Linked DNA regions of Homo sapiens: regions 1 and 3 are each linked to region 2. The links come from fine-mapping of genetic effects on gene expression. A gene starts in region 2. Each other region holds a variant in brackets. All regions are shown on one strand. Distances are from middle to middle. Region 1 has its middle 38 kb from the start of FHL1. Region 2 holds the start of FHL1 (four and a half LIM domains 1). Region 3 has its middle 75 kb from the start of FHL1.

Region 1 (4,151 bases), 39 kb after region 2:
ACCTAACAGATCTGTACACAAAGAATTATTTCCAATATACAAAATAAAGTTTAATAAGCTAAACAAGCCATGAGTTTGAGACCAGCCTGGACAATATAGCGAGACCCTGCCTCTACGAAACTAAAACATTAGATGGGTGTGGTGATGCACACCTGCAGTCCCAGCTACTCAGGAGGCTGAAGCAGAGGGATTGTTTGCGCCCAGGAGGTCAAGACTGCAGTGAGCCACGATCGTCACTGTTTTCCAGCCTGTGTGACAGAGCAAGACACAGTTTCAAAAAAAACAAACAAACAAACAAAAAAACTAAACAGGCGAACTCTATAATCAACTCTTCCCTTTATTGGTATTTTTCAGATAATCACATGAACTATGAGGTTTTTCACCCCAGGTCTTATCACAGACCTGACAGACAACCACTTCAAGATACACAGTGCTTGAGTGATGGCTCCCATTTGCCTTCTAATCCTTGATGGCTTCTCAGTTTTTTTCTTTCCCTTTGCAGCTGCAATGTCCCTCTTAGACCTGATCCTCCCCTCACCCCCACTACCACGTACCACAGAATGTTCTGTTCTCATAGCCAACTCAGGAAAGCAATGGGTACTTGTAATTGCCCATCATAGTTACCCAGGTCCAATATAAAGAAACTATTTACATTAATGCCTATAAAAACCGAATCTTTTCACACACGTTTACTGTAGAGCTGGCCATACTGAGTAAGTGCATGGAAGTTCTGGCATTGGGCCTATGCTTCTACAAGCCATGCAATAATAGCCTTTGGCCCAAAGCAATCAAACTCTGACCTGGATATTGGCTCAGAGTTGGCATAAGTTCACCAACTGTCACTGTTGCTAATGATACCACAAATGCAAGGGTCAAAAGAGGGCCCACTGGGTTGTAGGGCAGGGAATTTGCCAAATCTGGGACTCCACTGCAAAGATGGCATGATGTTTCAAGGGTGGCAAGCGAAGTCCCAACCCACTGCTCCCACTGACCTATCTACTGACTATTGTGCAACTAGACATAGCATTGGAGGTACTGGGCAGCTCTCCTGGAACCTCATACTTCCCCTTTTCAGGGGCTCGTGCCACAAGTTACATCACTCAAGGAGAAACACATCTCTTATTTCACTCATTCTGAAAAACAAACACTGGAATTTATTTATTTATTTATGTATTTATTTAAGACAGGGTCTCACTCTGTCTCCCAGGTTGGAGTACAGTGGCGTGATCTCGGTTCACCGCAACCTCTGCCTCCCGCGTTTAAGTGATTCTCCCACCTCAACCACCCGAATAGCTGGGAATACAGGCACATGCCACCACACCCGGCTAATTTTTGTATTTTCAGTAGAGACAGGGTTTCATCATGTTGGCCAGGCTGGTCTCAAACTCCTGGCCTTAAGTGATCCACCCACCTCAGCCTCCCAGATTGCTGGGATTACAGGCATGAGCCACTGTACCTGGCCACAAACAGTAGACTTTAATCCACACGGTAATAATAAAAAGCTCCTGATCTAGTCTTTGTATTTCTGAAACCCATACATTTGAAGAGTTTTTTTTTTTAATTAGTAGACTTTTTTTTTTTTTAGCAGTTTTAGGTTTACAGAAAAACTAAGCAGGAAGTACTGAGTTTCTGTATACCTCCTTAGCATCCATCTCCCAGTTTCCCCTATTATTAATATCTTGTATTGATGTGGTACATTTGTCCCAATTGATGGGCCAACGTTAATACATTATAATGAACTAAAGTCTAGGGTTTACATTAGGGTTCATTCATTGCGTTGTGCATTTTATGGGTTTTGACAAATGTTGAATGGGTTCTTTAATATCTTTATGGCCCATTCTGAAAAACAATAAATCACCTTATCTCAGGACAATTTTAATTGCTTTACAATTATCAAAGGAAGTTTCCTAGGAATATTATAATGTAAACTATTCACTTATTTTTAATGATTCGTGGCTTCAAAGACGGTCATAACACAGCCCAGCAAGTATATTCAACTTTGATTATCCAAAAACCATCCTTTCACAACTCTCCAATTTCCAGTACAGCTCGAAACTGGAAAGGAGTGTGAAAAAAGTGTTGGATCACAGGAGAAACAGCCTCCAAGATGCTATCTGACACATTGGAATTAGTCTGCTGCCCTCTCGGTCTGGAGATGTTTATAAAAATGGCTTTCTCATGAGAAATCAGAGCAGTGCAAGAGAAGTGGCATCAGGATACGGGAAAGACATGGAGGAGGAAAATCAGGGAAGGAAGATAGGGCAGAAACAGTAGAAATCGAGAGTGGCAAGAGGAGACGACGCATGCCGAAGTAATAGCAACAGAACAGAGAGCCAGCGAGATATTTTTTGACACTTGGATTTTTCTAGAAGGTGACAAACGAAGGGACAAACTCCATCTCAATGCAGCAGCCTTTAAATTGCTCAATAATTATTAGTTCAATTAAATATATCAATGAGAGTAATAACAGCATA[T/C]GAAAAGCTTGCTTTGCACCTAAGTGTGTAAAGACAGTACACCTTTCATGCACAGAAAATTCCCTCTGAAGCCTTCAAATCTTTTGTAATCCTCAAGGGATAGGGTTATTAATACATAGTAATTTTATACAGAAACATATATACACACACTAGCTGGAGGGATGGGTGGATGGATGAATGATTAGACAGATAGATACATATAAAACCTTTATTCTCAGTCTTCATTTTTACTTTACAAATAAGTACGAAGCAAAATTCAAATTTTACTTCTCTGGTTCTTGAGGGATTTAACACCTCACTGTAACTACTTGAGAAGAACATACACTGCTTTTCTGTCTATCAGAATTGTTTTTCTCTTGGCTGTAATTTCTCTTCAATTCAAGTACATAATGAAACTATTTACTAAGTAGCTTACTTGCAGAGGATGAGGGAAAGATTCTAGGAAATCAATACCTAGAATTTCTCTGTAGTATTATTTTAAACATAGAGAAGACAATTGCATTTTGGACATAAATATAGTCTTTTTATAGAGGAAGATCCACAAACTTTCAAATCTGAGTTTTGAAAGTGGCTCTCACACAAAAGCATAACGGGATATCTGGGGGAAAGGGGCTGGGGGAAGAATGTTACTGGAAAAGGGGCAAGGATAAACTTGTGGAGGTGATAAAAACATTCCACATCCTGATTGGGGCAGTGGTTTCATGGGTATATACATCTGTCTAAACTCATCAAATTGGAGGCTTTAATTGGATGCCGGTTTTTGTACCTAAATCATGCTCGGTGAAGTTGATATTTTAAAAGTGGCTCTAACAAAGGCCATCTGCTATAAGATGCAAGTATAAACTTTCACTTCCTCATATTAGTTTGGCTGCTTGGTTTCTTTCCTTAGTGTGATTAGCTGTGCTTAGTGCATTGGAAAATTCCTTCCTTACAAGAGGCAGACCTTCTGTGGCCTAGAAGGGATTGGGTCTAGGGTTTGAAAACTTGTGTTGACCCTGGCATCTGAAGGTGTGGAGTCTTTGACAAGCAACTTAACGTGCCTCTTTAGCCTCTAGAAGCTATGCGGCTGAGGACTTTATCTTTTCATTGTTGTAGGTGAAATGACGATCATTTACAGGGTAGTTGCTAGAACGTGTTGAAAAACAAATTTTGTTAAGTCAAATGTCTAAATCCACTGCTCTGGCTTAGTGATATAAATATTTTTGGACCGATAATTTGCAGGTCTGCCTATGTGTGTGTGTGTGTGTGTGTGTGTGTGTGTATTCCTTAGTCTCTGAGAAACCTGGGGGGAAACCTGTTACTTCAGTCCACCTGGCCACCCGAAAGTGCAGGTGATTGATTATGTCTGTAGGCAGACTTGCACTCAGCTTCCCAAACCAGAATGACGCATAAAACTAGACCTGGCAGAGTGCACTGAAAAACCAATCCTTAATGTCTCATAAATCATACATTTCAAATCTGACAAGAATCAAACAGCTTTATCCACACTCTAAAACTAAAAGTGAGTGACAAGACTTATAAATTAATCAAGTATAGAAATTTAGTTTTGTGCCATCCTTGTCAAAACAATCTTGCCAATAAAGCCTTTGCATTCCCAGCTATCATTTCCTTAGTACTGAAAAGGAAATTTAAAACCTTGTGACTGTTACAAATTCTTGTTATTAGAAAGTCTACAGA
Region 2 (4,280 bases):
ACGGAGCTCATGAGTCACGGCTGAAAAGTAGTCTTTCATACAATTTCATACAAAAATCAGAAAGTGTTTTTTCCCTTCAAAATAGAACGTGTACAGAATGATTCAATGTAATTAGCAACTTCACTGGTATGCTGCATTTAGAAAAAAAACAAATCTTTTTTGGGTCACTGATGTATAACTAATGCCATTTTAGATTATATCGGGTGTCAGGAGGGTTCGATATAGATTATTAAAAGAAAAATTATGTGCCACTGAACTTCCTGCAGTCCAGATTCAATTCTAGTACCATTTTGTCTGTATATGAAGATTTTTCATAATGTTGCACAGATTACGTGCAACACAGCCCCTCTTTCATATGGGAAAAAAAGCATTTCTGACCCGGCAGCAAAAGAGCATGTGTTTTTAGTTTCTCCAGCTGTGGTGAAGTAGTAGGTAGTCATTTGGTGGTCATCAAAAGCACAAAATGTTCAGTTTCACTCTCACTCAAATCTTCTGTATTTTAAGAAGCCAATCCAGTTGGATTACTTTCCTCTCATCCTACCCTCTCATTTTCCATCCCTGCCCTGAGAAAAGACTGGCGGGCTTGTGCGGCCCACTGAGCAGCAGCTGGTGAAGGGAATCGATGGCTGTGTAATATGGCAAGTGACCTGATCCCCCTCCACACCCCAAACCTGGTTTTCGACTTGAAAGGCCAAAGGCTAAAGAAATTGAATCTACATAATTTTGCAGACAGAAAGTCTTCAATGTCAAGAGTATACATTGTTTTTGTCCTTGAAATGTCCTCTCAGTATATGGATAGTCACTAAAAATGGATTTGGATCCAATTATCCTAGCTTCTATTTTGCCCATACTGAGCCCGTTTCAGGGCAACACTGATTTTCTATGAGGACTTCTCTGTCTCATGGACTGATTCTTCTCTGCTTTCATGAATCTATTAACCTAATGCAATACAAAATGCAATTTCCTGAATTCAAAAATCATCTAAAAGGTATAAATAATTGGTCCCATTTAGCCACAGTTATTAGAGCCTCCAGACTTACATACACAAGAACGACATAAGAATTTGGTGCAATTTAAAACCCAAGGTTGGGTATGCTATAAACTTTCTGTCACTATTTAAACTTTTAAACTTTCTGTCACTATTCTGTCACTTAATTAGTAAACAAAATGAGAGTTATTCTACCAGGTAACATGCATTTAAGGTTCATCAGGACAACTAGCACAGCTGACTAGTTTGCCTACACCCAGAGAATGTGTATCTTGGCTGATAACCACAATCTCAAGCATTTGGTACCATGTTTGTGAAACAGCTCCTGAGGGTTGGAAAAAAAAAAAAACCAGACAACTTTTGAACACTTGGGAACAGGGAAGACATTACATATTAATTCATTAAGGTAGGGCATTCCATTGCAGCATATTTAAAACCCCAAAAAGAGAAATTTCCTAAAGTATTTCCATTGTTTAAATATTGACAGGCAATGAGTTTTAAAAAATGATTTTTCAAAAAAAAAAAAAAACATAGATAATGACATCCCTTAATCTGAAAGCTGGGAGACAGGATGAAGTGCCTTCTTTATATCTAACCGTCTGACTTTACCAGCCCCAAGAAAGGGAACCGTTACTTAGGCAGAGGGCCACAGGGCCACAGCCACCCTCCTGGCTTCAAATAACTGGGCTTTTGGCCCCTCAGCCCCTAGTTCATAGATTTCTTGTCGATGGCCAAAGGGCTTCCTTAATTGTAAGGTTACAAAACCAGAAGAAAATGCTCATGTCCCAAGGAGTCCAAAATGTGCCCCTTTTTCTGCTAAAAACAATTAATAACATACTTAGCATATCAAAAGGAACATAGCTGTTACTTCGGGAAGATTTAAAACATTGTCAGCAAAAGGGAAGATGTGCTAGGTCATTATGGACTTTCTTAGTTACAAATGTTCCTCCTTTCAGCTCCACATTCGATTTACCTTCTCCAAACACCTTGGATGTAAAGCACTGTCAAGATGAAGAATTGTATCTTATAAAAAAGAAAGCCAAAAATTCCTAACCAGAAAAACCTTTCCTCCCACAATCTCTTATAGTTTCATGAGATGTCCTGAAAAAGGTAAAAATATAGTGGTAACATGTTTATATACTTCTTTTTAAAATAAATCACTCAAACTGTTCATTGTACTTGAACAATATTTTGTCTTTGAAATAGCATGAAAGGCAAAGGCAAAACAGAGACAAGCTATAATTTATTTACTATTCAGACAAGACTAAAATCATTTCATCAAAAACCATCTTTTAGCCCAATGACGGATTCACTGCCCTAACAAAACTGTGCTCAATATAAGATAAAGAGCATGAAGTTTTACCTGAGTGTCTATGGGAAGCCATGGCTCAGAGACCAAGTTCAGGAGCAGCACCTAGACCAGTCTTCCCTCAACCCCAGCTGATAAGGCTGTGGCTCATTTGTGAACATACATTTAAGGGGAAGCGGCTAACACAAAAATAACCGAGAGCAGATGTCCCACCCCTCCCCAGAGATCACAACCTTAATCCCACTAGAAAATTCTTAACCATTTTAGGTGATCCAAGGGAGAAGAATAGGACCCAGTAAAAATACCAAACGCTACATATAAATACCTGCGGGGCTACTCAGCATCCAAATTAGCTCCAGAGCCAGAGAGGCCACATAGAAAGTCATCCCTGTACCGGAATAAAATTTGGACTCGGCTCTGGCATAGCTTAACGCTGAGCCAACCTTATTAATCCACTTTATATGCCTCAAGAGCTTGCATTTGGCCCTGTAAATAATACATTTTTGTGCTGTTAATGATAAAAGTAACTCTAAGAGATAGACTTATGTTACCAGTGTAACTCAAGGAGATTAGACAGTATGAATATAGAGATTAAGGGGATTATAGATGTTGTCACTCTATGTCCTCCTTAGTATGTTCCAGAGATCAGCAGATTACTGTACAGGAAAGGAGAGTGATCGTAATCTCCCCACCTCCTTAACGGCAGACAGCACAGAACAAGATGGGGAGACTATGCCTATCCCCATCACACACACAATGAAGACATTTTGTCTCACAAACTCAACCTCTTGTTTTTCAGCATCAGGGACAATAAAAGGAAAAACATGAATGAAAATGAAGACATCAACCTAAAATGTTGTAATAGCTCAACAGGCCATCAGATGTCTGGGGGCTGGCTATTAGGAGCATGTTCTAGGAAAAGAAAGCCCCCAAGTCCCTCCAGGACCTTCTTCCACATTCCTTCTCTGGCCTTACCCTTAGCCCCCTTTCCCTCACTCCCACCTCACTGGCCTCCTCACTGTCCCCTGTGCCCAGAGTCATGGTTGTTCCTTTCCCTACTTCAAGTCTGCTGGTATTGCACTGATTTCTCTCCTTGCTGTCTGATCTCCTGCTTTGCTCCATGAAGGCAGGGATTTAGTACTGGAGCTCACTGCAGTGGCCCCAGAGCCTAGAACACTGCCCAGCTCCCAGGAGGCTCTCAATAACTATTCCTTGAAAGAATGAACTAAATAACTGAAAAATCCATCAAGCCTCCAAAACATAGTCCCACCTGCAATCCTGAAAGTGGTTTTGGCCACTCAACTTCAAGGAAGGCAGCTGACCTTCTCGCTGGTACAGACACCTTTATAGCCACTGTCTTGTTTAAGTGGTTTTGGCCCTATTCACACATCTCCCCTACCAGGTTGAGGGCCAGGGCAGTGCTTTGCTTGTCTTCATGTTCCTATAGCACACAGTAGGTGAGCAGTAAATGCTCCATGAATAAATGAATGAATGAGTTCCCCAATTCTTACGATCTTCAAATGTTTAAGGAAAAGTTATTCTAAAAGACAACTGACATCAGTAACTCCCAGTTAGCTAGAAAATGACACAATAAAAGCCAGGTTGTTACGAGTAAATTTATTACATGTTAGAGGAAAAAAATAAGCCTGGGAAAAGAAGAGAAGCTACACTGTGCTCTGGCTCCACGCCTTTCTAGTCTCTTTCTCATCCAGCCTGATTAAATTATGGTGCGGAGATTAGCCAGTTGTAACAACACCACACCCCTAAAATAAACTGAAACTTTTCACCTAGAGGAAATTCTCTTACTTTATTAGATGATTAACCTTAATGAACCCTGAATTTTTTATTTTAGCAAGTTATATTTTTAGGAAGAGCCCATGTATGTTGAAATGCCTCTCTTGCAGCGCTGTGAACAATAGGCTTGGTGTGCCAAATACTTTCCTTTAGGAAGTCAATTCCTGTTTCAAGCTATGCATCAGGAAG
Region 3 (4,280 bases), 76 kb after region 2:
CTAGAGATGATTTAAAGTATACGGCAGGATGTGCATAGGTGATATGTGAATACTGCAACATTTTCTATCAGGGATTATACCTGTGGATTTTGGTGTTCACCAGTGAGTGGTCCTGGAACCAATCTCCCATGGATATCAAGAGCGAGACAACTGTATAAGTCATGGCCAATATAAAGGAAACCCCTCCAAGGGCTCCTAATGCGGAATAAAATCTAAACCTATGTCCATGGCCTGCAAGGCCCTGCATGCCTGTCCCTTGCCCCCCTCCCCCATCTCAGCTCCTACCAATTAGCCTGTCCCTTCATTGAACACACGAAGCTTGTTTCCATTTCAGGGCCATTGTGCTTGTTTTCCTCTCAGCCTACATCACTCTTCCCCACACTTTGATATGGCTGGCTTCATAGACCCCAACCCCAGCTGTCACATTGTCCTGTTTTTACACCTTCGGAGTGCCTATAACTATCAGAAATGATCTTCTTTGTTTACTTATCATCTCATTCTCCCACTAGCATGTAAGTGGCGCAAGGAATTTTTGTCCCTTTTGTTCACTGTGCTATCCCAAGTGACCAGAACAGCACCTGGCAGCTAGTAAGTGTTGAAATAAATATTTAATGAATGAACAGATGATTAAGGACTAACTTAGTTGTGACCCAGATACATAAATAAATCATAGGGTTTGGAAGAAGAGGAGAGAAACAAAAGAAAGACAAGAAAGAAAATTTTAAAGAGGAGGTCAGATATAAACTGGGAGATAGATTGAAACGATGATGATTCAGAACACATTTTATTGTTTTTAGGTATAATCACTCTGATTTGCTGTGGCTCTTCCCTGGATCCTCCGTCAGTTCATTATATTTTAAAAGCCTAACTACATCAATGGGGATGCCATTCAAGCAAGAAAGTCCTTTGAAAATGTAGAATAATTAGCCCTCCTCTAACTTTATCTGTTTTATAAATAATACTCTTGGCATTATTAAGAAATTGACAACTAGGCCGGGCAAGGTGGCTTATGCCTATATTCCCAGCACTGAGAGGCTGAGGCAGATGGATGGCTTGAGCCCAGGAGTTTGCAACCAGCCTGGGTAACAGGGAGAAACGAAACCCTTTCGCCACACACACACACACACAAATTAGCCAGGCATAGTGGCACATGCCTGTAGTCCCAGCTACTCAGGAGGCTGAAGTGGGAGGATCACCAGAGCCTGGGGAGGTCGAGGCTGCAATGAGCTGTAACAGCACCACTGCACTCCAGCCTGGGCAACAGAGTGAGACCCTATCTCAAAATAAATGAATAAATGAATGAATAAATAAATACATAATAAATAAATAAATAAATAAATAAATAAATAAATAAATAAATATTAAAAAAAGAAAAGAAAAGAAATTGACAACTGATTAGCTGTTGACTAGCTTTGGGCAGTAATGATTTTTCCAAACCTCAGTCTCAAAACCTCAGAAGGGGATTACGTTAGCTCAGGAGTCACAGATGCAAAGGGGCCTCCCCCAGGGTCAGCAGGTCATGCAACTGATGGAAGTGAGCCTACAGGAGGACCCTGAGAAACTGGATGGAGTGCATATGCACCCAGTATGTGCCATGCTGCAGTGTAGCCCTGAGATGGCCAGGTTTACCCACTTTTTCAAGAAAAGGCAGAAATCCAGATTTTTATGACTTGTAAATGTTGGCAACTAATTTAAATAGTTTTAAAATACCACCAGGGCCAAGTAAAACATGCCTACAGGCTGAACTTGGCTCACAGACCCCTGTGCTGGATTTCTAAGGTCCTTTCCAACTTCTCAAATGCCTCCCGTCTATGAAATTTCTTTTTAAAAGTTGACACAACATCTGGGTAAACATTCTAAAACCCTGACTA[G/A]CATAAAAACCTTTTTTAAGATAAAAAATATTGTTTCAAGTAAAATAAATGTTCACTGTATACTTGATTTCTGGCCAATAACATACTAGATATTTTGATAAAGTTGTTTATTATTTAATTAGGCATAAAGCAAGGAGAACCAGCAATTCAAAGAGAGAGGACTATGCTAAGTGTGATGTCTTAAGGGAAAAATAGAGAAACGGAGGGACTGACTTCTCTAGGTGAGGAGTTGGTGTGAATTTATGTCTACTGCAAAAAACAAAACTCATCCAGAACATTAACTGCAGAGTCCAGATCTTGGTCCTTGAGAAAATTTTAATCTGATTGGATCTGATTTTCAGTTCATTAAAGAAAACAAGACATTTAATGCCAACACCCAAGAATTTTCCACGTTTTTTAGAGAAAGAACTATAATTATGGAAATAGCCAGTCACCCAAGGAGCATATTAAATACTTTAACTATTAGAAGACAGGTTTCTGGAACAACCAAAGTAAACAGTTTCACATTAACTTTTCTCAGATATGATAGTATTGGCTTAGAATTTTTATGATAATCTTAAATCCATTAGTGAGGTCAATTGTTTCCACATTACCAAAACATACTAATGTGATAATTTTTTAAAGCCTTGTTACTGTGCTGGACATTGTAAAACACAGGAAGCCCTGAAACAACAACCTAAAAATATATATTAACAACCTTTGATTTTAAACTTTGATTGATCATGGTGATTTTTTGTATCTTATTCAAAATGTTATAGTAACAATCTGAAAATAAAATTAAGAAAACACTTCAGTTTACAATAGTATCAAAAAGAGTAAATTACTTAGAAATAAATTTAACAAAAGAGATGCAAAACTTCTATTCTGAAAAGTACAAAACATCATGCAAAGAAACTAAAGAAGACCTAAATAAATGGAAACATGTTCCATGTTCATGGTGCAAAAGATTTAATATTGTTAAGATGCCAATATTCCCCAAGCTGATTCATAATTTAATACAATCCCTATCAAAATTCCAATAGCAGTTTTTGCAGAAATGGCAAAGCCAATCCTCAAATTCATTTGGAATTACGAGGGGCCCTGAATGGCCAAAACAATATTGAAAAAGAAAAATGAAGTTGGAGAACTCATACTTCCAAATATCAAAACTTACCACAAAGCTACAGTAATCAAAACAGTGTGCTATTGGAATAAGGATAGACATATAGAACAATGGAATAGAATTAAGAGTCAAAAAATGAACCAATAAGTCTATGATCAACTGATTTCAACATGGATGCCAAGTCCATTCAATGCGGAAAGAAAGAATAGCCTCTTCAACAAATTCTGGGATACCTGGATCTCCAAGTGCAAAAGGAATGAAGTACTGATACAAGCTACAACATGGGTGAACCTTGAAAACATTATGCTAAGCGAAAGAAGCCAGTCGTTAAAAACTTACATATTTATGGTTCCATTTATGTGAAATAACTAGGTAAGCTAATTTGTAGATACAGAAGATAGATTATTGTTTACCTAGGGCTAGAGAGTTGGTAGGAAATAGGGAATGCCTACTAATGGCTACAGAGTTTCTTTTGGGGTGATGGAAATGTTCAAAATTGATTTTGGTGATGGTTGCACAATTCTATGAATACTAAAAACCATTGAACTGTATGTTATTTATTTATTTATTTATTGAGGAGTCTCACTCTGTCACCCAGATTGGAGTACAGTAGCATGATCATAATTCACTGCAGCTTCAAACTCCTCAGCTCAAGCAATCCTCCCACCTCAGCCTCCCTTGTAGCTGGGGCCACCACAGGTGTGTACCACCATGCCTGGCTAATTTTGTTGATTTTTGTAGAGATGGAGTCTCACTATGTTGCCCAGGATAGTCTTGATCTCCTGGGCTCAAGTGATTCCCCACCTTGGCCTCCCAAAGTTCAGGGTGTCAGGCATGAGCCGCCACTCCTGGCCTAACTGTACCTTTTAAATGGGTGAATTGTCCGGTATTTGAATGATATCTCAATAAAGCTGTTAAAATGTGATGGTATTCTTCCACACTTACAGAAATGTAAGATGTATTTATTTCACAGGCATTGGTAGAGTACCTACTATATGCCATGCACTGTGCTAGGTGCCATTGGAGCCAAAACAAAATTTTATATCACTACTGTCTCAGAGTTTATAGTACGGTTCTGTGTATCAATAACTAGAACACATGGAAGAAAGCCAAGACTGAGCCCAAGGAGGCACCAAAAGTTATGATGAGAATAAAGTCAATTCTTAATGGAGGAAGTACCTTTTGGGGCTTTGGAGGGTAGCGGGACTTTGACAGGTACAGGTCAATGAGAAAGGCAATTCCAGCTGCGTGAGGTGGTTAGGGCAGGATGGTGTGGCAATGCACAGGAAGAGCAATGGAAGTGAGAT

What was found. PIP is the estimated chance that this variant, and not a neighbour inherited with it, causes the effect.
Region 1: its variant is the best candidate, but not a certain one, in a credible set for the expression of FHL1 in blood mononuclear cells (TOPMed, PIP 0.60).
Region 3: its variant is the best candidate, but not a certain one, in a credible set for the expression of FHL1 in aorta (GTEx, PIP 0.54).

Annotation. Positions count from the first base shown.
Region 1 is chrX:136,156,571-136,160,721 of GRCh38, reverse strand. It overlaps a transcript of FHL1 not described here. Among named protein-coding and RNA genes, the nearest start is that of FHL1, 38 kb to the left of the region's middle. The variant T/C (reference allele first, on the strand shown) is at 2,475.
Region 2 is chrX:136,195,206-136,199,485 of GRCh38, reverse strand. It overlaps FHL1 (four and a half LIM domains 1), which reads right to left and starts at 2,439. Exons shown (of 6, transcript NM_001159699.2): 1 at 2,352-2,439. The coding sequence starts at 2,373.
Region 3 is chrX:136,119,462-136,123,741 of GRCh38, reverse strand. No RefSeq gene overlaps it. Among named protein-coding and RNA genes, the nearest start is that of FHL1, 75 kb to the left of the region's middle. The variant G/A (reference allele first, on the strand shown) is at 1,872.